2 separate regions of the Homo sapiens genome follow, and region 1 is linked to region 2. Evidence: fine-mapped expression QTL. A gene starts in region 2. The other region holds a variant in brackets. All regions are shown on one strand. Distances are between the middles of the regions.

What was found. PIP is the estimated chance that this variant, and not a neighbour inherited with it, causes the effect.
Region 1: its variant is fine-mapped to the expression of RASGRF2 in whole blood (TOPMed, PIP above 0.99).

What each region holds. Positions count from the first base shown.
Region 1 is chr5:81,201,919-81,214,664 of GRCh38, reverse strand. It overlaps RASGRF2 (Ras protein specific guanine nucleotide releasing factor 2), which reads right to left. Exons shown (of 27, transcript NM_006909.3): 20 at 7,760-7,820; 21 at 7,316-7,419; 22 at 6,227-6,311; 23 at 2,102-2,299. LOC124901017 (a long non-coding RNA gene) reads left to right here and starts at 3,727. Exons shown (of 2, transcript XR_007058842.1): 1 at 3,727-4,606; 2 at 5,255-8,454. RefSeq lists an enhancer at 2,068-2,127. The variant C/T (reference allele first, on the strand shown) is at 6,895.
Region 2 is chr5:80,953,921-80,966,666 of GRCh38, reverse strand. It overlaps RASGRF2 (Ras protein specific guanine nucleotide releasing factor 2), which reads right to left and starts at 6,304. Exons shown (of 27, transcript NM_006909.3): 1 at 5,641-6,304. The coding sequence starts at 5,928. It overlaps RASGRF2-AS1 (RASGRF2 antisense RNA 1), which reads left to right and starts at 5,760. Exons shown (of 4, transcript NR_105015.1): 1 at 5,760-5,886. RefSeq lists enhancers at 5,480-6,201, 9,292-9,812.

The DNA.
Region 1 (12,746 bases), 250 kb before region 2:
CCTGGAGAGGAGCTGCACAGCTTCCTGAGAGGCAAAGGGCTGTCTTCCCAGTTCTGGTGTCTGAGGGCTCTTAGAGATGGCATGCTTGGTCCAGGGCTAACCTTGCTCAAAAAAGTTTCAAAAGTACAACCTGTCCTACAGCAACAGACCAGTCTGTGGGTTCCAGAGTGCAGATTATCAGGCCTGCTGAACAACTCCCCGGCTGATCTCAGATGCAGAGAAGGGACAGCTGTACAGCGGATGTTGTCATCAAAGGTGTCTGAAGCAGGGTATATCTGCAACCAGGCCCTACCTACCATGACTGGAGTAAGGCGCTTGGCTCTAGAGACAGCCTCTCTGGGGGACAGTCCACTAGCCCATGCTAAGGCCACTGTGAGTGACCTATAATGTGACTGAAATGCTAATATTTTATTTAGAGCCTCTACAGATGGTATATTCAAATTTTGAAACAATCATTTCAATATTAGTCTCATCATCTCTATTTCATGATCAGTTCGGTTATTCCTAAACCAGCATCCTATCAAAGACAAGAATATCACTTAACTACGGAGTGGGCCTGGAAACTTTAAGATTTAGGGATCCCTTGGTGATAGCTGGTGATCCCTAGAAAGCTGGTGAAATCTGGATAAGACTGGTGGATTGCACCAATGTTCATTTCCTAGTTGTGATACTGTCTGTAGTAGTGCAAGATGCTGCTGTTGGGGGAAACTGGGTGTAAGGTGCAGGGAATCCCCGCGTTATTTCTTACAACTGCATGTGAAGCTATAATCATCTCAAAACAAAAGTTTGTTTTTTTGTTTTTTTGTTTTTAACCAGTATTTTTAAAAACTGTGGCTTTTATTTACCAGGTCCATTGTTGACAGAAAAGAGGACTTTTGAGTTCTAAGGGGCCAAATTTGGGATTCTCAGAGCACTGCATTTTTACTCTGAGAAAGGTAAGATAAAAGATAGGACTTAGGCTTGGTTTCCTGCCACATGGAGAAATTAAATTGTTCTCCTATGCTAAAGGGAAAAGCTTGGAGGGCAAAATGAAGATGGAAAAGAAATAATGAGTGTCTCTGAGAGGGGCTTAAATCCTCAGAGTAGGGTGATAAAATGAGACAGTTTTTAGGCCATGTCAGCAGAACATACCTAGATCTTCCGGTCTGGGACCCTGGAGGTGGCACTCTGTAGATTCCCCTCACCAACTCTGGGTGTTCACAGCAAGGCAGGGGAGGGTTAGGCAGAGAGGGCCTGATGTAGACCCTTCTATTCTCTGGCACCAATGGGACGTGAGAGCCTGGAAACTTCCCCTGAGGCCCTTTGAGGCCCTTTCCCCCTCGCCCCTGAGACGAGGTCAGCCAGGCTCCCTGGGTGCAATCACCATGCATTGTTCCCAGGCAGGGCAAGCAGGCCAGGTGACACCAGGTACAGGCAATTCACAGCAGCCTGTACCCAATGAATCATCAGCAAAGAATGACCACAGGAGGCCAGAGGAGCAGACAGGTGCCCAAAAGCCCAGAGATGCCCTCCAAGGCACCCAACACCCAGGGAGAAGGCCAGGAGAAAGGGCAGGGGAAGAATCATGATTTAGTTTGAATCTTGAAATTATCTGAGTGAAAATGACAGGCATAGGCAAGCTGAGATTAATGAAAGAAAATGAAAATTGTATTTCTGCACATCTAAATTATTATGCCAAAACTTTACATCTACTACAGGAATGAGCAAGAGAAAGGTGAAAAATGAGGCCTTTTGTCCCTGGCTTTTGGCCCCACAGAGTTTGCACCCTCACTCTGGGAGAGAAAGAATGGACCCACTGGACATAAGTGTGCTTGCTCAAAATCAATGTACCCTCCGAAATAATTCAGGAAACAACTCTTGACTGACAACCACATTGTTTGTGGCTGTCCCCCAAAATGCTTTAATGAATGTTTTAGAAATGCACATGAATGAAATCAATTAAGTGGTAAGAGCCCTGTAATTACCCATGTTGGCACCTTTCTTTGGCAACTGAGCGGCTCATTTCAGTTAATGATTTCCTAATTAGTAATATTTAACTTGGCTCCCATCTCCCAGCCTCTCCTCCTCTTAGCAGCAGGCTGTGTCACACGCTGAGGCTCACCTGCTTAGAGACCTTGGCCCAGGTTTTCTTCAGCCTGTAGATGGCACTTCTGTTTAAGGCCGAGGTGATCTCCAGCACGCCGTTGTAGTTGTGCAGGCATCGGCAGATGTCCGCCACTGCCACCCATTTCTCGATGGCGTTGGCACGGGAGCTGACATCAGCATAGTTCATTATCTGGGAGGCCACCAGGTTACTCATCTGAGACAATCAAAAAGCCCCGAAAGGCAGTCTAAGAGCCCCAAGCAGTGCATTTAGGCAAAATATGTAAATTATCTGCAGACCTGTCAGGAAGGCAGGGTGTTGAGTAGCTTGAAGATCATATTCTACATTTAGATACCAACTTTCTAAAGAGACTAAAGTCTATAAGAATAAACTAATGAGCATCTGTTTGTCCTTTGAGTGAACACAGGGGTTATCTGGATTCCCGCTTGTTGAGGGAAGAGATGATTTTGTTCCTCAGCAATTTTGATGGTGTCATTTCTAATAATTACTGAGGAAATGGGACAGAATAACCTAACGCCTGCGGAAAGGCAATGTCTGTAGATCATGGATGTCACTCCCTGGGGCCTTTCCCTTTACTCCTTGGCCCCCAACAGTGTGTGATTACTCACTCTGAGAAGCCACAGTTATCACAGAGAAAGAAAAAAACACTTGCCCCCAGTTAGATCAAATTCTGAGCTGATTAACTCTCAAACCAGAATCACTTGGCTGCAAGGAAAAGAACATTTTCTTCATCTTATTCTTCACCAGCAGTTAAAAGGACCTATAGTTTTGAGGCTAAGTACCGTAATTTTATTACTTAAAGCCAGTTTAAGAAGCTCAGCTCTTGTAATATGGAGAGGAAAAAAAAAGTGAAATGAGATTACCGTATTAACAAAGGGAATATAGGGCGTGTAATCTTATATCCATACACCAAGTCTGATGGATTCACCCATTCTTTGATGATTCTGAAGACACTTAAGATCTCATAGTGCCTCAACACCATCACTGTGGAAATTCGCTAAAGCACCTACTGCAGTGCTGTTCACTGAGTGCCTGCGCATCCTTAGCGTGAGGAGAGGAATTATTTGGAATCCAGTTTGTCCTGGGAAGAAGTGGTTTTGTTAATCAGTAATTTCGATGAAGAAGTTCTTGCCAATAACTATTGAGGAAATGGGATAGAATAGATTCTTTTAGGTGCTGGGAACAGAAAGACAAATAAATCCATCCCTGACCTTAAGGCAATCTGAGCCTAGGTAGGTGGGAAGGGGAGGGTCGCAGATACATAAACAGGTAAATGCCATGCAGCGAAACACAAAGTTGAGTCTATTCACGGTGGGGTTTGGGAATACACAGGCAGCATGGGGCATCTGGTCTAGTACAGAGGAGGCTTCTAGGAAGAGGTCACGCCTGCACTGAGTCTTTTTTTTTTTTTTTTCTGGAGACAGGATCTTGCTCTATTGCCCCAGGTGGAATACAGTGGCATGATTACAGCTCACCGGAGCCTCGATGTCCAGGGCTCAAGCGATCCTCTCACCTCAGCCTCCCAAGTAGCTGGGACCACAGGTGTGCACTACCATGCCTGGCTAATTTTTTGTATTTATAAAGACAGGGTCTCACTATGTTGCCCAGGCTGGTCTTGAACTCCTGGGCTAAAGCAATCCTCCCAGCTCGGCCTCCCAAAGTGCTGGGATTACAGGTGTGAGCTACAGTCTCCAGCCTTGCATTGAGTCTTAAAGGATCTAAGTATGAGAGCAAGGGGACAGAGGTGGGAGGGATGGTGTAATGGAGGACCTGGCAGCCATCTGAGGGGCACAAGGACTGGGAGAGGCAAGGGTGACAGATGGGCTGTGCTCTTGTATGACAGGTTGGGACCATATCCCTAAGGTAAGGGGAAGCCACTGACAGATTTTTGTCAAAGGGAGGTAGATAATTAGATTGACCTTTCAGAGAAGTCATTCCTGTGCCACTGCATGCAGGATGGTTTAAGGTACATGGCTGTGCTTTGGTCTAGGATAGGCCAAGGTGGACATCCGGGCCAGAGGGACTCAGTGAGTTTAGAGCACAGGTGTATAACTCCACTTGTGATCACAGCCATGTAGCCATAACACGGAAGGCCATCACTTGGCTCTAAGCCACTATTGTCTGTAAAAGGTATAATTGCCCTGTTGACACTGTACAGGAGCTCATGCCCAGAGAAAGAGTTAAGCTGCTGACCCTGAAGGCAAGTGAGAGCTGGCCACACAGCTGTGCGCGGGAGCGACTGGCTCAAGCAGCTGAGACAGAAGAGACAGCGTAAGAGAGCTGCTGATGAAAGAGCTGCTAATGAGACAGCTGCTGATGAGAGCGCCCGCTGAACAAAATCATCTTTCACCTACCTACGGCCCCCTACGTGTTCTTTCAGGCATCCACCCACTCCCCTCAGACCTCAGCATGGGCTGGAACCTGACTCTGAACCTAACAGATGGATTGGAGGGCAGTGAGGTTGCAGGGGAGAGATGAGTCAGGAGCTCCTGGAGAGACAAGGTAAAAGGCCACATCAAGGTGGTGGCAGCGGGGAAGGCAGGGTGGGGAAGAGCCTGAGATATATGTAGATTTAGAGTTTGCAAATATGTTGGGCAGTGGTAAGGGTGAGCTGGTAAGGGAGAAGATGACGTCTAGATCCTGTGCTTGGGTGAGTGAGTGTATGGTGAGGCCACTACCCAAGACTGAGAACAGAGAGGACAATGAAGAAGCAGGCTTGGCGGCTCTGGGGTGCAGATGAAAGGTTCCATCTGTAATTGTCAAGAATGCAATGTAGCAGTCGTCCCAGCAGAGGAGACATGTGGGTCTGGAGCCTGGGATCGAACCTCTCTTTGAGTGTCCATTATATCCCCTGTGTTGGTTCACCACAGGTAACAGAGGTTTGCTTCCCACAGCAGGGAATCTGTTTCTCAGGGCAGGCACTAGATGGGCCATGCCCTTGTCCTTTAGGCAGCAGCGGCACTGAAGCTCATTGTGTGGTAGCATTCACACAGCATCCACGTGCTTTGGGGAAAGCCTGCATGAAACACTGTCTTGGGAATCTAAACTGTCATTTTTGCATTTTGATTCTAGATCACTTATTAATTTACCTATGGGGTTCCTGGTAGTTTGTTGTTGTTGTTTTTAAAATCGTTATTCCTTTTACTATAGTTTAGTGAAACTGGAAGGGGAGGCTTCCCGTTGCCTGGATAGGCCAGAAGACACTCCCACACCTGTTACTTGTTCTACCACAGGACTAAGACTATGAGAACAGCACTAAGGAAGAGCGGGGAGGTATAAAAGCATCTCCCAATCTTACCGCTGGGGAAAAGCAGAGCTGTAAGATGGACTGACAGCTGGCCACTGCTGCACAGAACTATAGCAACAATGTGATTATGCTCCAAGAGGCCCCTTCCAACCCTGGAATGTAATTCAGGCTGAACGTTCAGTAATGATGAGGACTTGCACCAACCCAGCCTTACCGTGACCAACACCACCAGGGGCCAGTGACACATGTACTGCTCACTCTGTTAGTCAATATATGAACAGGAAGTAGTGATAATCATGATAAAAATAGGATCAGCAACCTGTACATTATTGAGCACTGGGTACCATCAAAGGTGAACCTTTTATGTCAGGAAGTTAATTGGACATTATTACATTACTGTGAGCTCTTAGAGATTTAAGCTTGTCGTCAATATCCCATCAATTCTGTTTAAAAGTGGGTGGCAGGCCAGGTGCGGTGGCTCACGCCTGTAATCCCAACACTTTGGGAGGCTGAGGCAGGCAGATTGCCTGAGGTCAGGAGTTCGAGACCAGTCTGGCCGACATGGTGAAACCCCTTTACTAAAAATACAAAAATATTAGCCAGGCATGATGGCATGCACCTGTAATCCCAGCTACTCGGGAGGCTGAGGCAGGGGAATTGCTTGAACCAGGGAGGTGGAGGTTGCAGTGAGCTGAGATCACGCCATTGCACTCCAGCCTGGGCGACAGAGCGAGACTCTGTCTCAAAAAAAAAAAAAAAAAAAAAAAAAAAAAAAAAAAGTGGGTGACAGAGTTGCTTTGTTTTAGAGGAGTCTTTAGACCCCAATATCCATCTTCTTGTGACACGCCCACGGTTTTACTGTTACGGTTACTCACGTCATTGAAGTGTTGGCTGGTTTTCATAATGTAAGGAGTTCTTTCGTTTTTATCCAGCTTCATCCACCCCTGCCCAAGAAACTCCCTGGAAGTTCAAAACAAAACACAAAACCAATTAAGTTTTTAAAAATATGGTGGCTATGATCCTGGACAGTTGTCACGAATATTAGAAAAATTCCATTTGACATGGCCTAGAATGGTTCCTGACACCTGCTGCTGCCAGCCTCACAAGTGAATTTTACCTCGGCTGTTGCAGTTTACCTCTCAATGCCAAAAAGGAAGATTCTTCAGCTTCCAGCTTTCTCTTATAAATGTTTGGAACTGTGTCCCTATTAGGATCCTATAAAGCCTTCTCTGAAGTTGGAAAACAAGAACCAACACAAGGGAAATAAAGAGGTTAAGTACTACCTTAGAAATCAAGACTATTTTCCCAGGATTAGCTTTTAAAAACATTAAGCCTTAGCAGAGGGTCCAAAAATTTCATCACTACCAAAAATGTTAGTCAGAAGCAGAATTTTCTCCCTCCACTCTGCGCTGCCTGCCATTCTCCTGGAGGATGCAGATTTCAAAGGCAGGGATTGCGTTTTGTTCTCCCCAGCGCTCAGGAGGGCGCAGGTGGTCAGGGCTGAAAAGCGCTCCTTTTAGGCTTGTACCGCATGTTGCCCTGA[C/T]CAGGCAGTTCAGCGGGGCAGAAGCTCCACCTGGTCAGATGGGCTGTCTTCAGGGCAGCATTCCTGATCATTCACTTCATTCCTGAGCAGGTCACCAGACACAGCAAGAAACAAGGGACAAGTGAGATGCAGCATACAGGAATTATTTTGTATAGTCATTAAAAACACTCGAAATTACTCTGATACTCAGGTTGACTAAGTCCCTGGGCAGGGTTCTTTGTCCCTTGCTGTTGTTGGTCCTGCTCCCATCCTGCAGAGTGCTGGACACAGAGGCGTGCCAGTTCCATGGATGGAAACAACTGGTAGATACTCACACAGGAACTGAGGGGACAGACATACACACAACCTGCCTTAGGAATAATGTCAACTTCTAAGACAGCTAGAGCAGCCGAGCCCTGCTGCTGTGGGGGGTGGCACTCACTCGTAGGGAATGCTTCTGAAAATGACATGGTCCAGGAGGGTGATCTGTTCTGCCAGCTCCATGGCCGACAAGGACTCAAAGCATTCGGCCTTCATGCAGTCAGTCTGCAAGAGATGAGGGAGGGAAATGAAACACCCAGGAGAGGGCGCCTGCCATCTCATTGCAGGTCAGTGAGGCAGACAGCTGCATGTGTGGAAGCATGAAGTTCACCACTAAATTCTAACTATGAAAAAAATGGCAGAAAGCTAAAAGTATCAAAGCCAACATGAATATCTTAGACCAACTGCTAGACCCCACACCAAATGTGGTTCATCTCACAGAGCTTCACAGATAGGACAGAGGGCCTAATACTACAACACTCCTTGATCGGTTACAAGCATATTGCTCGCCTTGGAGAGGTAGTTTGCACATAGTTGTGCTAGATAAAAATGTGGTCAGACTTACCATTTGAATTATATCCTCTAATTTTAGGTGGATGTCATCTTGGTCATCTTGTGAAAGGGCCCTGAAAAAGATATCAAATTATCCTCCATGAAAGAAAAAATAGACAACCTAGGAACAAAACTACAAATGCAGTTTGGTTTTCCCTGGATGGGAGGTCTGAGGATTTGGGTCTACAAGGCCATGCAGCACAACCAACTGCTGAGCTGGAGATGAGCAATCCCCAAACAGAAAACATGCTCAAGGCATGAGAGAATCATCAGGACAGCTGATTTAGAACAAAAAGGCAACCTGTTACATACAAGGTTGTAAATGAAACAACCACCGTCACAGTGAGTCTGAGGGTGAGCTGGGTGAGCTCTGAGTTACCATCCATAATGTAAAATGGAGCATCCTCTAATGCTATCAGCCAGTTGGACTCCTAGGCCTGAGTGCCCTCCTCCCCACACCTCTATCCCCTACCGTGGGCTTTCCCTGCCCTCACAGAGGCAGGAGACGCAGGGCCACCCCTTTCTCAAGCTTACGTAGACCAGAAGCACAGGGGGTTCCTATGTGGCAAGACTCTGAACAATGCCAGGCAGGAGCCAGCAGATAGCTTCTTCCCCCTTGCATTCCAGATGGACTTTCCTCAGACACTTTTGGCCCTGAATCTCATACATGTTATTCAGCTCTCAATAAATATCTTTTAAAAAAATAAATGATGAATGAATGAATGAGTGAATGAATAAACACAAGTTAATACCTTAAATACTGGTTTCAGAGTAGAGGGTATTTTTGTGCAACAGACGTTCAGAGTCCAGGAAAACTGGAGTCCAGTAGGCATCCAATTACATAATTTGCCATTGGAGCCAGGCATTTTATGTTTTCCAAAAGGAAGGCACAAGCACATACTCAAAGCATTAAAATAGTAGGAGGGCAGATCATGAGGTCAGGAGATCGAGACCATCCTGGCTAACACGGTGAAACCCTGCCTCTACTAAAAATACAAAAAATTAGCTGGGCAGGTGGCGGGCACTTGTAGTCCCAGCTACTCGGGAGGCTGAGGCAGGAGAATGGCGTGAACCAAGGAGGCAGAGCTTGCAGTGAGCCGAGATAGCGCCACTGCACTCCAGCCTGGGCGACAGAGCAAGACTCAAGTCTCAAAAATAAATAAATAAAATAAAACAAAATAAAATAGTTAAACGGTCCCAAACCATGTACTCTGCTGGAGGAAGCTACTTTTAGTAAAAGGCGAAAGATTTATGCGATATGAAGAGAAACTAGAGTAAGAGGAAGCTACTTTTAAAAGAAGTAATGATGATGTGATGTTCTGTTGTGTTCTGAGTTGATTAAAACAACAGCCACAACCCTCAAAAACATAATATCAACAGAGATGGCTTCCTGTATGCCCGCTCTATGCCAGGCATGTGCTAAACATTTGACATGCACTATCTCCTGTATCCTAACAGATCCCTTCCAAGGGATTGTTATACAGGACAGCAGATAATGCAGGCATTGTGATCTCCGTTTTACAGATAAGGAAACAAAAGCTCAAAGACACTGACTAAGTTGCTCAGGGTTGTGGGCCCTTCCTTTACTCTGCGCTTCTCTTAAGCAGGCTCAGGGAAGGCACCTCTTCAAGGGTCCCACACACAGCACACAGTCAATAAACACAACTCCCTTCCCTCGGCTGTCTGAAGGGGGAGCAGGAGCCTTCTAGATTATACTAGTAGCAGCCCTCTTATCGGCACTTAGCCATATTATTTGTGAGTAGAAAGAAATAGTCATTTTATCTTAAAGGGCAGATTAAGATGAGGAAAAAATAAGTTAAAGCTAACTCTTTCTCCAAAGCCTATTAAATTACATGTAAGGGTTACACATGGGAGATAAAAGTGACTTTTCCGAAAGTGCACATCATCTTTTCCACCATTCTAGGTTCCTGGAGAGAGATCTGTGGCTCCATAATTATGTGTACCAGTGGGAAAGATCTTTTTATGAAGCTGGGTAATATCTTTCCCTTGGAAAGAAAAAGTCAAAAAGTTAGTTAGCTCCCATCAAATGTTCCTCTTCTCAATGATCTTACCCTCATTTTCCAAGAGGCACTCTGGTGCCATTAAGTTACCTAACATTTTATGCCTTCCTGTTGATGCTATGTGGGGTTTGAGGATGACTTTTCTATGACCTGAGCCCATCACAGTTGAACATCCAAGAAGTTAATCACTATTTCTTTTTATTTTGTGGCATGTTGGGTATCTAGAAAAACTCTACACTGAATAGATTTTGAAGACAGCTAGTTAGACAACTTTGGAGGAGGAGAGATGGTATTTTAGAAATATAAGTTTTGAGTACAGGTTTTTATTTACAAACAGGGCAACAAACTATATATGGCAATTAAGTGTATTCATCATACACTTAATTGTGACCCCTGTGAGACTGTGAGTCAGGGAGGCTTCATTCAAAAGAGCATTTGCTTTATTGCATTAATGTAACCTATGCATGAAAACATGTTTTATGTTCATATCTCTTAGATGTCAGGAATGCATATAAATCTCTAAATGTCAGGGCTGCACTTAACCACCATATGATATGTTTTTTATCTCTCACAGTCATAGCCTGTGTTTTCTAGAGGGCATGGTTCAGAATTCTTTCCCTTCAGATGTGGAGGCCTCTGCACTTCTGGTTCAGTTCCAATAGAGAAAAGATTTGCTTCTAGTCTTCTGGCGATGCTTGGGCATTGATGAACATTCCAGGATCCTGGGTTCCCCACCACCATCACTACCACGTCTATCAGCAGTATCACCAGTTTAATAATTGTGCATTTATAATGACACACCAAATAAAAGGAAATGGGATTATCCAAGCTGTATGAATAGAAAATTCCTCTTTCAATTAGGGTAGTCCAAAAACAGAGCCACAAGCAACCAGTGTCTGTCCTGGGATTGGTCCACACTGTCTTTGTGTGGAAAAGGTGACGAAGCCTAAAGAAAGTTGAGTTGACTAAGATCCAGCCTGGTTTCACTTGGGCCATATGGCCTTAACGGCAGAAACTACTTTTTCCAGGAACTACTGTCAGTGCTTCTAACAGTAATAATACTCACTTTACTACGAGTGCTAATGACTTTTCAGGCATTGTGTTAACCTCCTTACACATTTCACATCATGTACTCTTCACAACAACCTAATGAAGTAGCTATTATGAGTCCCACTTTATAAATGAGGAAACAGGTTTGGACCGGTTGAGAACTTGACATCCATAAATGGCCGAGCCAAGATTTAGCCTTGTGACATCCTGCAAAAGGTAGAATCAGACTCTGCTCAGTGTTGTAGTTTCAAGCTCTACTGCCTACTAAAATTTCTGTTCCCTATCAATCTTACACTGCTAACTCTCAGGTCATTATTCAGCAGAAAGAATTGGCACATCTGAAGCCTGATGAATAATCAAGACCTGGGATGGCAAACAGGATTCATCTTAAGAACCAACTCCAACTGACTGACGTCTGAGGTCACCTCTTGGTGCAGAGAGAAAGCTCTCAGAATTGATGGGTAAAGTCTGGCATGGGCGTCTTGAGGGGATTGGCAACAAAAGGCCCTCATACTGGTTGATCCTGACAGTTTTTCCCAGCCTGAACACCCTCACTTCCCTGATAGCTATTTAGTCAAATATCCCTAGGGGCACAAACTTCCTGAATCTAGTTTTTAAATATTAGTGTTTTAAATGCAAAGAGCATAACAAACTAGTTATGAAGAGAAAAGAAACAGTAATCACTCAGAGTCCCTCATGCACTGAAATCAGGCTTCACCTCAATATGTACTTACAATTTTAAAATCTGAAAACAGACACAGTAGTGGAATCCCTGGGCTTACTTAGATGTTTTCATAGAATGGAAAAAGTGAAGAAGGCCCCTAACTGTTTCCTAGGGCTGCCTTAATAAAATCCCACAAACTGGGTGGCTTAAAACAACAGAAATGTATTGTCTCACCTTCCAGACAGAGGTCTGTAATCGAACAGTCAGCAGGGCTATGCTGCCTCTGAATCCTGGAGGGGAACCCTCCCTTGCCTTTTTAGCTGCTGGTGGTTTGCCAGCGATCTTTGGCTTTCTTTGGCTTGCAGCTGCATAACTCAGTCTCTGCCTCCATCTTCAGATGGCATTGTCTGTGTCTGTCTTCCATGGTTGACTTCTTATAAGGACACCAATCAAAGTGGATTGGGGTCCACCCTACTCCAATACCTCCACCCTACTCCAGTACCTCATCTTAACTGATTACACTGGCAATGGCCTTATTTCCAAATGAGGTCCATTTTGAGGTATGGGAGGCTAGGACTTCAATATATCTTTTAGGGGGTAGGGAGATACAATTCTACCTGTAAGAGACCCTACACCAAAGAACGGTCTGGCTATGGGATCTTCAGCTAATGGGGGCTAAGAAAGACTTACAGGCCAGTTGCTAACACATCACAAACCAACATCTGGTGTTGCTGCATCAGGGAAGGACTTGCAAAAACATGGACTGAGCTAAAATAGACTGCCTGTGGATGACACAAACATTCTGGATAACATGTAACAAGGAGACAATGCAGCCAAGCTTCGAGGAAAGGAAGGGTCATTTCTAGAGGTTGTAAATGAAGAGGGAACTAGAAATGAGAGTGGTAAAGAAGTACCAGACCCTGGCAGAGAGATGCTGGGCTTCCCATCCCCAAGCACGGACAGAGGACGTACTTATGAGTGAGCTGGGAAGCTGCAACTGAAATGTCTGCACAAAGCTAGCAATGGCTGCCCTTTCCACATAGAGTGGACAAAAAAAAAATCCACCCACCAGTTCAAGAAGCTATAAGAAAGCTTGTTACCCACTTGGATACTGGGTGCAACAACTATGGACACAATCTCTAGCAGTACACCCAAAGTTGAAGCCTTTATCACATAGAAGTGTGGAGTCATACCTTATACAATCCCCCATAGTCATACCACCTACGTGATGTGGAAATCCTAAACTGACAAGCTGTAGAAAAGCT
Region 2 (12,746 bases):
AAACCTGCTACTGTTTTTTTCTAAATATATACACAATTACATTTTTAACTCCTTGGGCAAAAATGCTAACATATTCCCTTTGGCGGAACCAAATTCATGTATTTATAACTTCTCAATCAGCTAAAATTTAAAAGTTGCACCAATAAAAATGTAATGGATAATTTTAGAATAATGGTTAGATTTTAGAATAAAGGCCAAATGTTATAAAATAATCAAACATTTATCACAGTGCTATGTTGATATTTAACAAATATCATTTCTAGTTTCATTTAAATATCAATAAAATTTTACTATTTACAGTCTTTGTTTAAGGTAAACTAATTTCAGAGAGGAATTTATATTGTGAGTAATTTAACAGAATCATTCCATATCCTTAGTCCTGAAAAATAAAGCTCCCCAAATTATAGATAGATGGGATTTATAACTCAGGTCTTGAAATGTTAATGTACAAATCAAAATCTGCAAACTCCAATATATAACCGCCTAACAAAGGTTTAATATTCAACGGTAGAAAATAGTAGAAGGGTAACAAACTGAATAAACACCACACACACACATACACACACACACACACACACACACAAACATATATCCCTTTCTTGTAGAACAAATAAATAGGTATAAAAATAGAAAGCCACTTTAAACCTGTGAAAAGTAGAATTTAAGACTTGAGCAAATCCATATGGTTGGTCAATCTGACTTATTTCATTACAAAATAATCATAAAGACTAAGTAATTTCATTCCAAAAAATTAAAATTATACTGACTGTGGCATGCATATTTAAGTAGTATTGAAAACTGCAGAAAAAAATCCATTTAAAAATATAATCTGCATTAAACAGACAGCAATATCAGCAATTGTTTTAATGAACCACTGACATTTGCTTGCTAAAACCAGAAACATTTGGTTATCACACATGCTTTAGGTCTTGTCATCATCCAGTGGGAGAAAAATTTCTCTATTTTTTAATTGTCAAAAGAAGGGAAAAATTGTTATAACACTACAAGTATTTTCTACCCCTCGACAATGCGCTTAGTTGTCACTTAATGAAACCCACAGAAAAATAGTTGTTCACAACAATAATGCATTTTTATGTATTAATACATCTGTCACATCAGGGATGGACTTTTCTGTGTTGAATTCTTACACAACAATCTAAATAGTAAGGCTTAGTGTAGCCAAAATTAAAATAACTCAATTTTGCTAATCCATGAGATTTTTTTTTCATTTAACTTTAAAGAGAAGGATAATTACAAAGTTTAAGTAATAAATTATTTTGTTCCCTAAATTATATTTTTTAACATTGTATAAGATTTAGCAAATATCATTATTCCATTTTCCCTTTGTGTTCAGTAAACAAAAGTTGAGTTGGTTATAATTAGACAACGTGAAGTAGTATGAAAATCCACCATCCACACTCTCCATCTCCCACAAATATTTCAGAGTTCGCACGCAGCTCTGCCTAATTCATTCGATGATTAAAATCCTCTGCTTGTGGTCAATTTAGGAAGGCTAAAATGACTAGTAATGAAGTGACAGGAAATCACATAGCCTTTAATCCCTTTAAAATTAAACCAACATGTTTAATTCAGCACAAATGCAAATGTCTACTTCTTTAAACCTCCAGAGCGAAAGAGATATTTTACCCCCCAAAACAAGTGAAATCAGGCTGAAGAGAACATTTACCACCACCAGAAAAATAAGAATCAAGGTGGCTTTTTTGCTATGTGTCTTCTCCTGCTAGTAGGCAAGACAGATACTGCCACTGAAACAGAGCAGACTAACTGGGATGTGTACTTTCACCCTAAATGCAAATATTTTTAAAGGTACCCCATTCCTGAAGTAAATGAATTCCTGAAGTAATGTCATGTAAAACTGCTTGTTTAAAAATAAATCCCGTTTTTCTTTGAACATGTAATGGTCTGCAATCGTATTTCTCAAGAATTACAACTGCCATTTAAATAGTTTTGAAAAGGAAATAAGAATAAACAAAACAGTGATTCACATCCTATACCCCAAGCCCCCATCCATCTAGATTTGCTCAGTGGATTTAAAAACAGTCTTAGTAAGGAACTCTTCAACATAATTTAGTCTTTATATCTTCAACTGGACTTTGATCATCTCCCCAGAAGTCTTTGAGTTTCAGTGTTAGCAATAGGTAATAATAACGATGATGTTAATACTCATCATCTCCAAAAGCTGAAGTTCAAATTAGATGAGGTAAGAGAGGATAACAGCCACCAAGAGCACAGAGCCTACCATGTAGAAGGTACTTGCTAAATACAACTTCCCTTTCTCCTTCACCTGGAACAAAACGGGAGGTTTTCATTTTCCACAAATGGAGCTTAACTAGAAAGAAGTGCCATCGGACACCTTTTTAAGAAAAGGAACAACACTTTTGGAGAAAATAAACCACTTAAAATTGTTTTTAACTGATCTCATTTTGATTATATCACCATTGCTATCCCAAAGAAGTAGTCACTATGGAAGGCTGATAAGAGAGCCTTGCAATCCTCCAAAGACTCATCAAAGTGAAATCTGAGAACACTATGAAAAAAATAGAGCAATGCAAATATTCCTACAATCTAAGCATATTTGGAAAGTGACTTTCTTTTTTCTGCTTAACTGGAAACAATTTAAGTCCAAGTGTAAAAAAAAAAAAAAAACGGATTTTTTTGTTGTTGTCAACCAACTTATTTTGAATTGTTATTTACAGGAAGCAAACCAATGGGTGTTTTCTTCTTGTAACTTACCTAAAAACACAACTAATAAGCATAAAAATCATTGAAGGATATGTGGACTTTAAGCTCCCAAGAATGCTTAGAGGCAGTTTATAGCAATAATTACATCAACTATTGTAACTGTCAAGGGGATTACAATAAATATGTCGCCCTCCAATGTGAGTAATAAGAATGTCTCTGCCTCAGGCAATGATGTTACTATAGGTTTGCACATCTGCTGACCTAACTAATTTATCAGAATGTCCACTTCAATCACCTGCTTGTCCTCGGCTTTTCAGATGCAGTATTTATTACAAACACTGGTAATCTCTGAATCTTGTGAAATGGTCTTTCACATTCTCCACACTGCAAAAAGCTCACCCTGTCTGTCATAACCTTAGAAATAGAAGATGCCATTATTGAAAGGTAATTGGAAACCAACTTAGCCAAATTCTTAATTTTTACATATTAGGAAACAGAGATTTCATTAACAGAAAAAAAGAGAAAAGATTAAGAGATGTGCTTAAAGAAATAACACGGAAACTTGGTGAAGAAAAATGACTCTGCCTCACTAAGTCCTGTTTCAAGCCCTAACCTTCAACTGTGTTGATAGTGTTGAGGGAGATATTGATATGGAAAGCTCCAGAAGCATATAAGGAGAAAGAAGCAAACCTTGGGATGTGCTCATCTCCTCACATCCTCCACAGATCCTTCGTGTCTCAGTGTCTGGATGATCTAAGCACCTCAGCAACATAAATTAGCTGAGAGGTAACCAACTGGATAAACTGTAGATTTAAGGTAGAATGTTTCTCCTTGTTTCTTATTTTCACAGTTTCTTCTTAATTATTCAAACACACCCAGTTGGCAGTGCCAGAGAAAAGCATCAGTGGGCTAAGCTAACCCAACTCACAGCAGCACATCTAATGCAAGACAAAATGTGGAAGGTTTCCCAGCCCAACTCCTAATCCATTCTGGAATGCTTGCTTCTCTACATCTCAGATTTATCTACAAACACCAAAGATTCTAATTTCTAACCTCTTGAAGATGAATAAAATGACTGAGAAATACTCATCATTTGCATGGTCATAAAAAGGGAAAACAATTTTTTCATTAGATGGCCTATTTAGGACAACCATTAGAAAGTGGCATGAAAGTCAAACTATTTGGAAGTTATGTTTCCTTATTAAAGTGCAAGAAAGAAAACAGTCTTGAAGATTACAGTCCAGATATTTTCCAAGTAGAAAAATGTTGGTTTCCATATAACATTAGCAAGTCAGAGAGCCATATGAATTGTAACAGGTAACAACTCCCCACCCCTAACTGAAAAAAAAAAAATCAAAAGTGGTTATCTTATATTAATATAAATATGAAGAAAACAAATAATTTGAGATTAAGTAAATGATATATATCCTGAGTAATTTAAAATACCCTATTCTACTTTAGACATAATAACATTTAGAAACCTATTCATTTTGGTTCCTGCGGGGCCTTGGAACACATACCTTAAAAAAAATCCCACCAATAGAATGTTACTTATATATATTCCTGAAAAAAAATGTTTCCTCAAAACTCTTCTCCCAATTTAAATTCTAAAATGCATGACTTGAAATTTATGTTTATATTTCTAGTATCTATATCTATAAAGTTGGAAATCAGTTTTTCAAATGACTCTGAACAAGCCCTCAGAAACTAAAGAGCATATTTAAACTTTCAGATTTATAAGTGTTATAACAAGTTTAATCACTTAAGTCTGTTAATGATTTATAGTGAAAACAACTCAAACTTCCGGTCGGTCTAGTTTTAACTCCTCTTAATTTTACACATTGTTTTATGAGCCCCAAAGGGTTAGGTAGGCATCTTACGGATCACTCCATTGCTAGCACCTCCCACAGCCTCTGTGGTGTGCGGTAGATGCTGTCTGATCTGAACTCACATGGAAAATTCAGCTGCGAATATTTTTACGCAACAGCAAAAACAATCAGCCTTTTTCATATCAAGGTGGGGATTGAGAAGCTAAATGAGAACATTAGGGGCATAAAATTAGTCTGCTTTAACTTTAATAACCAAACGGTGATTGGAAACATACAAACTTTGTGTTTGCAGGAATGAGGGGCTGGGATCACTAAGACTTAAAGGGTTTTTCTCCCCCACCCCGCGACCATGAGCACACAGCAAAACTAATAAAATTATGACCCAGAATTAAAAGGTCGCATTCATTTTCAAAGCATTCATTTAAAAGTACAGAAGCGTTCTTTAAAAATGCCCACATTTTTAAACATAGCAAGAATGTGGCTACCAAATATTAATCCTGAGGAATATGAATACACATTTACCTTCATAATTACACCCAGCAGGTCAAATGTTAGCAAGGCCAACTGACCGAAATCACAAAGACTGATTGAAAATGACCAACAGAAAGTGTCTGTCCGGCTTGGGAGCCCCGCTTGTTCCCAGCCCAACCAGTGGTCAAACATCTGCAGGCAAAGAAATCTACACGCGCCAGCCGGGTATGGCAGAAATCAAACTTTTCCAAATAAGTTAGTTCCGTCTTGCCAATCTACACCCAACAGGTGTCAATACATGTCACCAGACAAAAATCTGGCGAGCCAGGTCTAGAGAAGCAATAGATGGTTGGCAGAGAAGCTGAAACGACTCGACCTCTACCAGGGTAATGAAAGCAAGTCGGGCCACTATTCTGACTGATCACTTGGCAGTGGGGTGGAGGGGTATGGAGATGGGAGAATCCCTGGATGAAGATCGGAAGGAGCGTGGAGATGTCCCGCCACTGGTGACGCGGGGGGATTTCGGAGCATAGTCCCCGCACTCTTTCACGACCCCCGACCCCTGATCCCCGGATTAGGACGGCAAGGGAGTGCGGCGATCAAGGCTGGGAGACCGCGGAGAGAAGGCGCGCGGTACCTGCTTGTCCAGCGCGTCTCGGACGCCTCCCTGCCCGGCGCCGGCCCTGGGTGGCGCGGGCGTTCGTTCGCAGCTGCAGCCCTCCAGGAGGTACATGCCCGCCGGGCGGCAGCTCTGCTCGCCCTCGAAGTAGAAGAGCACATTCTGGTAGAGGGCGAACCACTTCTCGTGCCAGCGGCTCGCCTCGGCCGTCTTCTTACTCAGGAAGCCGCGCTTGGTGCCCTCCTTGCGCGCCAGAAAGGCCAGGTACAGGGCGTGCCCCTCGTTGTAGCGCACGCTCTTCTGCATGGTGCGGGTGCGGAGGGCTCACGGGTGGCCGCCGGTCTCACCCCTGCCTCGCGGCCATGGCCCAGCTGGCTCCCTCGAGGGCGCGACCGCTCAGGTCCCGGCCGGCGAAGGGCGCCCCCTTTCCCCACGCCGCGCGCAGGGCACCCCGCCCGCTTTCGGGAGGCCGCGGCGCGCGGTGGCAGGGGCGCGGGCTGGGGCCGAGGCACGCTCTCCGCCCTAACCACCACCCTCCCGGCCGAGCCCCCGGAGCCCCCCAAGCCCCCAACGCCCGCGTGGAGCGCGGCCCCGCGAGGGCGCCCGAGCCGGCCGCCGCTTCGCCCAAAGTTGCGGGAGCCGAGCCCCCGCGGCGGGCTGGGGCGGCAGCCGGGGAAGGACTGTCCTCGGGCAACGCGCTCCGGGAGACAGAAGGTAAAACGTCACGTGGGAGCTCAGCTGTAATCGGCTTGGAGACCGATTTAAAGGGCAAAGTCGGCGCGGCGCCGGCGGTGGCGCAGCCCGCTTGCCCCGGCTCGCGTCCCTCCCTCGCCCGCCCCGGCCCGGGCCGCTGCCTCTGCTCGGGCGCCCGCCGGGATGGGGCGGATCAGGGAGGTGGAGGCGCCCGGCCGCACCACACACCCGCTCACACGCGCTCGCACACTCGCGCACAACGCGCGCACACACACACGCACACCCACACACACGCAGACCAGTACATTCACCCAGATCCACAATGCACACACTCAGACGCACAAAAATACACTCACAAATGCACACAAACACAATGCGCGCACATATGCACAAAAACACACGCGCACACACTCATGACACACAAATACACATTCTCACAACGCTCACACTCAACACACAGTCACAACGCACAAATGCATATAGACAAATACACCCACAATGTGCGTTCCCGCGCACAAAAATAAAACCCACATTCAGATACACACTTAAGGAGCTACACACATGCACGCAGTGATATGCTCACTTACACACACATTCACACACAACCCACACATTCACTCAAACCCACATTCAAACATACATTCATACACACATTACACTCATACAGTCACACAAACAGCACACATATACTCACACGTTCACAATCATACAGACTCATAAGCAGATAATCAAACACACACACAGATGAACACACATGTACATTCACAAATTCATCCAAAAATACACACAAAGCACTCACACACGTATTCGCACGAATCCACACACTTTCACAAACCCACTCACACATACACACACACTCACATGCCACATCCATAAGTACGTTCCCATGGCAGTAGGTAGAGTCACAGAGTGGCTTTGCATAGCCCGCATCCTTGGCTTTTCTGCTTGTACCTGCATTGTAGTATTTAAAACTGCCGGTAAAGGTTAAGGAGAGTGGCCCAAGTGTTCCCGGAAAGGCATCAGATGCCGAAGTTCTTTCGGAATGCCTGTTATTTCACAGTGGTAAGATGCTAAATTTTAAGTGCCGAGTTTTCAACCTGGAAAAAAATACCCAAATAAGGGACACTTTGCTGCCCAGGGCAGAATCCAACCCCAAAGGCCAGCTGTCACAGGCTCATCGTTTGTAGGACTGGATTCATTTGATTAACAAATCTGACAGGTACAACCAGAAAACCAAGAGCCACCCCCCCGCCCCAACCCCATGCTGTAAAAATGTAAGTGGAAAAGAAATAATGTAGCCAGCAGCTGTGAGAGAAAGCCAGTGAAACCCCCGGGGAGGGCCTATATTTGATTCTGCTATACACATTTTTTATTTTCCCCAGTCATTTATCACTAAAACGGAGTGCCATCATAAAATGTTTATTGTTAAAAGTAAATAATAATGCTTTTCTGGGTGATGAGTCTACGACAATACACCTGTCTTGTACTGCCAGTTGTGTGTTCATGAATTGGTAGCCCCAGGGGTTCTGCCTGTTTCATAAGTGCTGTTTCTGCAGAATATTTTAACTCTGCCTCACTGAGCAGCTGAGTGGGGTTTTTTTTTCCTTTTACCTTTTTAAAAAATTTTCACTTTTAACAAGTATATAGTAGGGAAATTGCCATTTTGAAATTACAGCGTGAGAACAGTGGTCATTTCTCTTTACGTTTTTAAAAATATCTAAAGGACAGTGCTGTGCTAAATTGGGTTTAACCCAGCTGGAAGTTTGCATTGTTCTTCAGAGAAGACACAAGTACAGAGACAGTAAGTAAATGCAGGCAACATTTTGGAGCCAGATTCTAGATGCAGAGGAGCTGGTGATTGCCTCAGGAGGCCTTTTATTTCTTTCTCTGTGGTCCAATCCCAGCTGTGAGAACCGTAAGTGAGTAGACACCTGTGTGGTTGATAAGCTCCATTTTTTTAGTAGAAACCAGTAAGAGTGTGAAATCAGCACAAAAACTATTTTGCCATGAGTAGTCAAACCTTCTAACGCACTTGAGTTTTTTCAGATGTGAAAGATTCTCTTCTTCAATAAGCAATGTCTCAGTTACCATCTCTGTCTCCTTAAATGTGCTTTTCATTTGAACCACATGAAATATTCACAACCTCTTGTCTGACATCACTTCCTACCACGGAAGGTTATGTGGCCCTTATATGCCACCCCATCTGCTCTGCCCCTGGACAATGAGAGAAAGGAGTGCTTGTTTCCTGCAAAATTTGGCTGGTGATTACCGTGGGTTTTGATTATGGAAATTCACTGCAAGAACCATTTATTGATCACTAGTTTATGTCCTCAACACTATATTTAGGTGATGTAGAGCATATAGAGAAAAAGCATTGCCTGTGTTCCTGGTGTGCTCAGTGTAAGAGGAAGAGAATTTCTTTCTTTCTTCTTTTCTTTCCCTTCCTCCCTCCCTCTCTCTCTCTCTCTCTCTCTCTCTCTCTCTCTCTGTCTCTTTCTCTCTCTCTTTCTTTCTTTTTTTCTTTAGAGAGAGGTTCTTCCTCTGTTGCCCAGGCTGAAGTCATAGCTCACTGCAGCCTCAAACTCCTGGGCTCCAGCAATCCTCCTGCCTCAGCCTCCAGCGTAGCTAAGACTATGGGTGTGCACTACCACACCTGGTTAGGTTTTGTTTACTTTTTGTAGAGACAGAGGTCTCACCATGTTACCCAGGCTGGTCTCAAACTCCTGGTCTCAAGTAACCCTCCTGCCTTGGCCTCCCAAAGTCCTGGGATTGTAAGTACGACACCACCCAGCCAGGAAGAAGATTAATGTTTAGGTGCTTCTTCTCACCTGTCTGTTTCTCAAGTGCCGAGCTATCTCTGTAATCCCTGTAGCACCCAGTAGGAGAGTTTATATGCAGTAGGCATACAAGTTTTTCAGACAATTATTTTCTAAATTAATTTCTTATTTGGTCATTGAATTGTTAAAGAGGGCATAAGCATTTGCAAATATTAGATCATTCTGCAAGATTGTAAGAGATGAAAACAACCAGACATTCCTGGACAGCCTAGAGAAGCTATCTCTATTAGGTGTCTGATGGGCACCTGGGGGCCTTTAGTCTCCATTCATATGGAAACCACATCCCTGGAATGGTGCCATCCTGAAACACAAAGGATCAGGAGTTTATGTAAATAAGAATGCTTTCCCCCAGCTGATCAAATAGATTGCCAAAAAGAGACTGCGTTCCAAGTGGATGGGAACAAGCTTCTCTGAATTCATTGTTTTTCCTTCTTGCATTGCGTGGATTCTTTCTTGAGCGGGCCAGTTTAAAAAAATTTTTTATGGGCAACAAAGCATATGATCACAGTGCAAGTGGCCTCTTTCCCCTTTTCTAGATAAGTTAAGAGGGGAAAAATAGCAATGAGCTGTCATACCTGGAAACTCTACTAAATAGAGAGGGAGACATTATTCAGATAATTTGATGAGAAAAGGAAGGAAGGGAGGGAAGGAGGGAAAGAGGAAAGAAAGGACGGAAGGAGGGAGGAAGGAAAGGTGGGAGGGGAAATTTTATCTGAATTGTCTAAAGCTTTGAAGTTTAGGGGAGTGGGGAGTGCACAACCTAACCTACAGCTTTTCAAAATCCCTAACTCATGCCTTAGTATTCAGATGCACAAGGTAGGTTTTAATTTTTTTTTTCTTTCTCCTAAACTCTGTTTTGTTAGTAAAATGTACATGGGCTGCATGAGTTTCTGCAAGGACTTTTCCCTGTGGTTTCTATAATTCAGAAATGCATCCGCACTGGGTTCTTGGAGGAAGATTATGTCAAGCAAAGCTGTCAGAGGCATTTGAACCAAAGCAACTCCATCTTAAATAGGAGCCGGGTAAAATGAGGCTGAAACCTACTGGGCTGCATTCCCAGACGGTTAAGGCATTCTAAGTCACGGGATGAGATAGGAGGTCAGCACAAAATACAGGTCACAAAGACCTTGCTGGTAAAACAGCTTGCAGTAAAGGAGCCACCAAAACCAAAATGGCAACGAGAGTGACTTTGGTCGTCCTCACTGCTACGCTCCCACCAGCACCATGACAGTTTACAAATGCCATGGCAATGTCAGGAAGTTACCCAGTGTGGTCTAAAAAGGGGAGGCATAAATAATCCACCCCTTGTTTAGCGTGTCATCAAAAAATAACCATAAAAATGGGCAACTAGCAGCCCTCGGGACTGCTCCGTCTATGGAGTAGCCATTCTTTTATTCCTTTATTTTCTTAAACTTGCTTTCACTTTGCACTTCGGACTCGCCCTGAATTCTTTCTTGTGAGAGATCCAAGAATCCTTTCTTGGGGTCTGGATTGGGACCGCTTTCCTGTAACAAAGCCACAGTATTGCCAAGATCCTTTTCTTAGCCTGACAGAAGATCACTTGGGGAATTGTCATTTTGATGGCTTGTAGATGTGGAGAATAATATATTTAATAATGCAGACTCACCAAGAATCCCAGACTGTTTCTACAGGATAGAGTGCTACCAGTTCTGGCACATATGTGATTCTGTATCATCTCTTGATACTTAATTAGTAAAGCCAGGTTCTTCCCCAAGTAGGTAAAACCCAAAAGGATTATTCCTTCCTTGTTTCCAGTATTATTTTGACCAAAAAGAATTCCTTATTTACGAAATACTAGAATGAACTACTTAGAGCTAATAAAACCATTTATCTGGTGTCCTTATGATATTTCAACTAACTTAATGTTCGAGATACCTAAAGCTTGTCCTTCAAACACCGAAGATAAATGAGCTCTACATCTCTACAGTCTAAACAGTGAAGAAAAGTTAGCATCTTCTTGATTTAAGGTCACTATTCTAAATACAATGTGTCTAGGAGCTAGACCACAGCTATTGCTAGCCTCTACTCTTTTATGCAAATTAGAAAAAGGCACACCCTCTGGGAGGATGAATTAGAGAGAGCCTTGAGGTGCACACAGCCTTGAGAACATGATCCTGATGAGTGGATGACATGACACCTTCATGTGACTAAAAGGTGCCCCTCCCCCTGGATGGCTACAGCTCTGTGCAGGGAGCCCTGTGCAGTGACCAACCTGTGCAACTGAACACAACAGCTTGTGCTGTGTGCCTCTCCATGGGTGGCCACGAACAGCTGTGCCTTTAGAGTTTCTATAGCTGTTCCACAAACCCAACCGCATCCTTCACCCTTTCTCCATCCTAACCTTCTAATTGTCATCTTCTGGTTTCTTGAAGACTTAGGCTGTGAAGCTTTTAAGAACTTTGTGAAACAAAATATAACTTTATTAAACATAAAAATGAGAAGATCTTGGAGAGTCCTGTAGAGAGTGAAGTGTGTAATCTAGCTAGGAATACACGGGAATTGTTTTGACCGCTAGAGATGATTTCCTTTTGGCTTCTCAGCAATGCTCTGAACATGTAAGGTCTGACTACACGAATGTAATTATTCACATTATATACAGTAGTATAAATTATGCATGCATTACTTTTATACTGTAGTGTCACCACAAAAAGTATAGGTTATGATATACAAAGAATTTTAGAGACCCAAGAAAATACTCATGATTTAGTGGTAGCAAAAACCCCTTTCTATTCCCCTGCTTCCCTTTATAGCAAAACTTGCCCTTTATAACATCTCTCTACACACTGGGTCTACTTCCTTCTCCCCATTTTCTCCTGAGCTACTTCATTCAGTCTTTTCATCCCCACCACCCCACTGAAACAATCCCCACAGTCACGGTCACCTGCAGTCCCCACAATGCCAAGCTCGGTGGTCAGTTTCCAGTCTGCACATTGACATCGCAGCAGCGTTTGATACAGCTGAACACTCCCTCTTTCTTGAAACAGTCTTCTCACTTAGCTTCTGGGACACCACACTCTCCAGCCCCTTCCTGATTCTCCTGCTGTGTCTTCATTTTCTCATGGCTGTCCCCCTCCTCTTCGCAGCCTCTGAATAGTATTTCACCCCGGGGCCCTCTCCTGGGACGTCTTCTCTTCTTTATCTACATCATTTTATCCACTCCGTGGCTTTAAATAAGTCTCTCCACCCCTCTCCTTTTCTGAAATGCAGACCTGTGTGCTGCCTACTCAACATCTCCTCTTGACTATCTAGTAGGCATCTCAAACTCAACGTGTTCAAGACTGAATTTCCCTGCAAAAAAACAACCGTTCATCCCATAGTCTTCCTCATCTCAGTATATGGCAACCCCATCCTTCCTTAAGTCAAAAATTTGAAGTCATCTATGAATCTTTTAATCTTCTCTCACCCCAGTCAGCTCTACCTTCAAAGCATATAGTAAATTAAACAATTTCTGACAAGCCCCATTGCTACCCCCATCCAGCCCATCGCCACTTCTCACCTGGACTACTGGAGTAATCTCCCAGCCGTCTCCCTGCATTCACTCTTACTCTCCTACTGCCTGTTCCCCATTGAGCA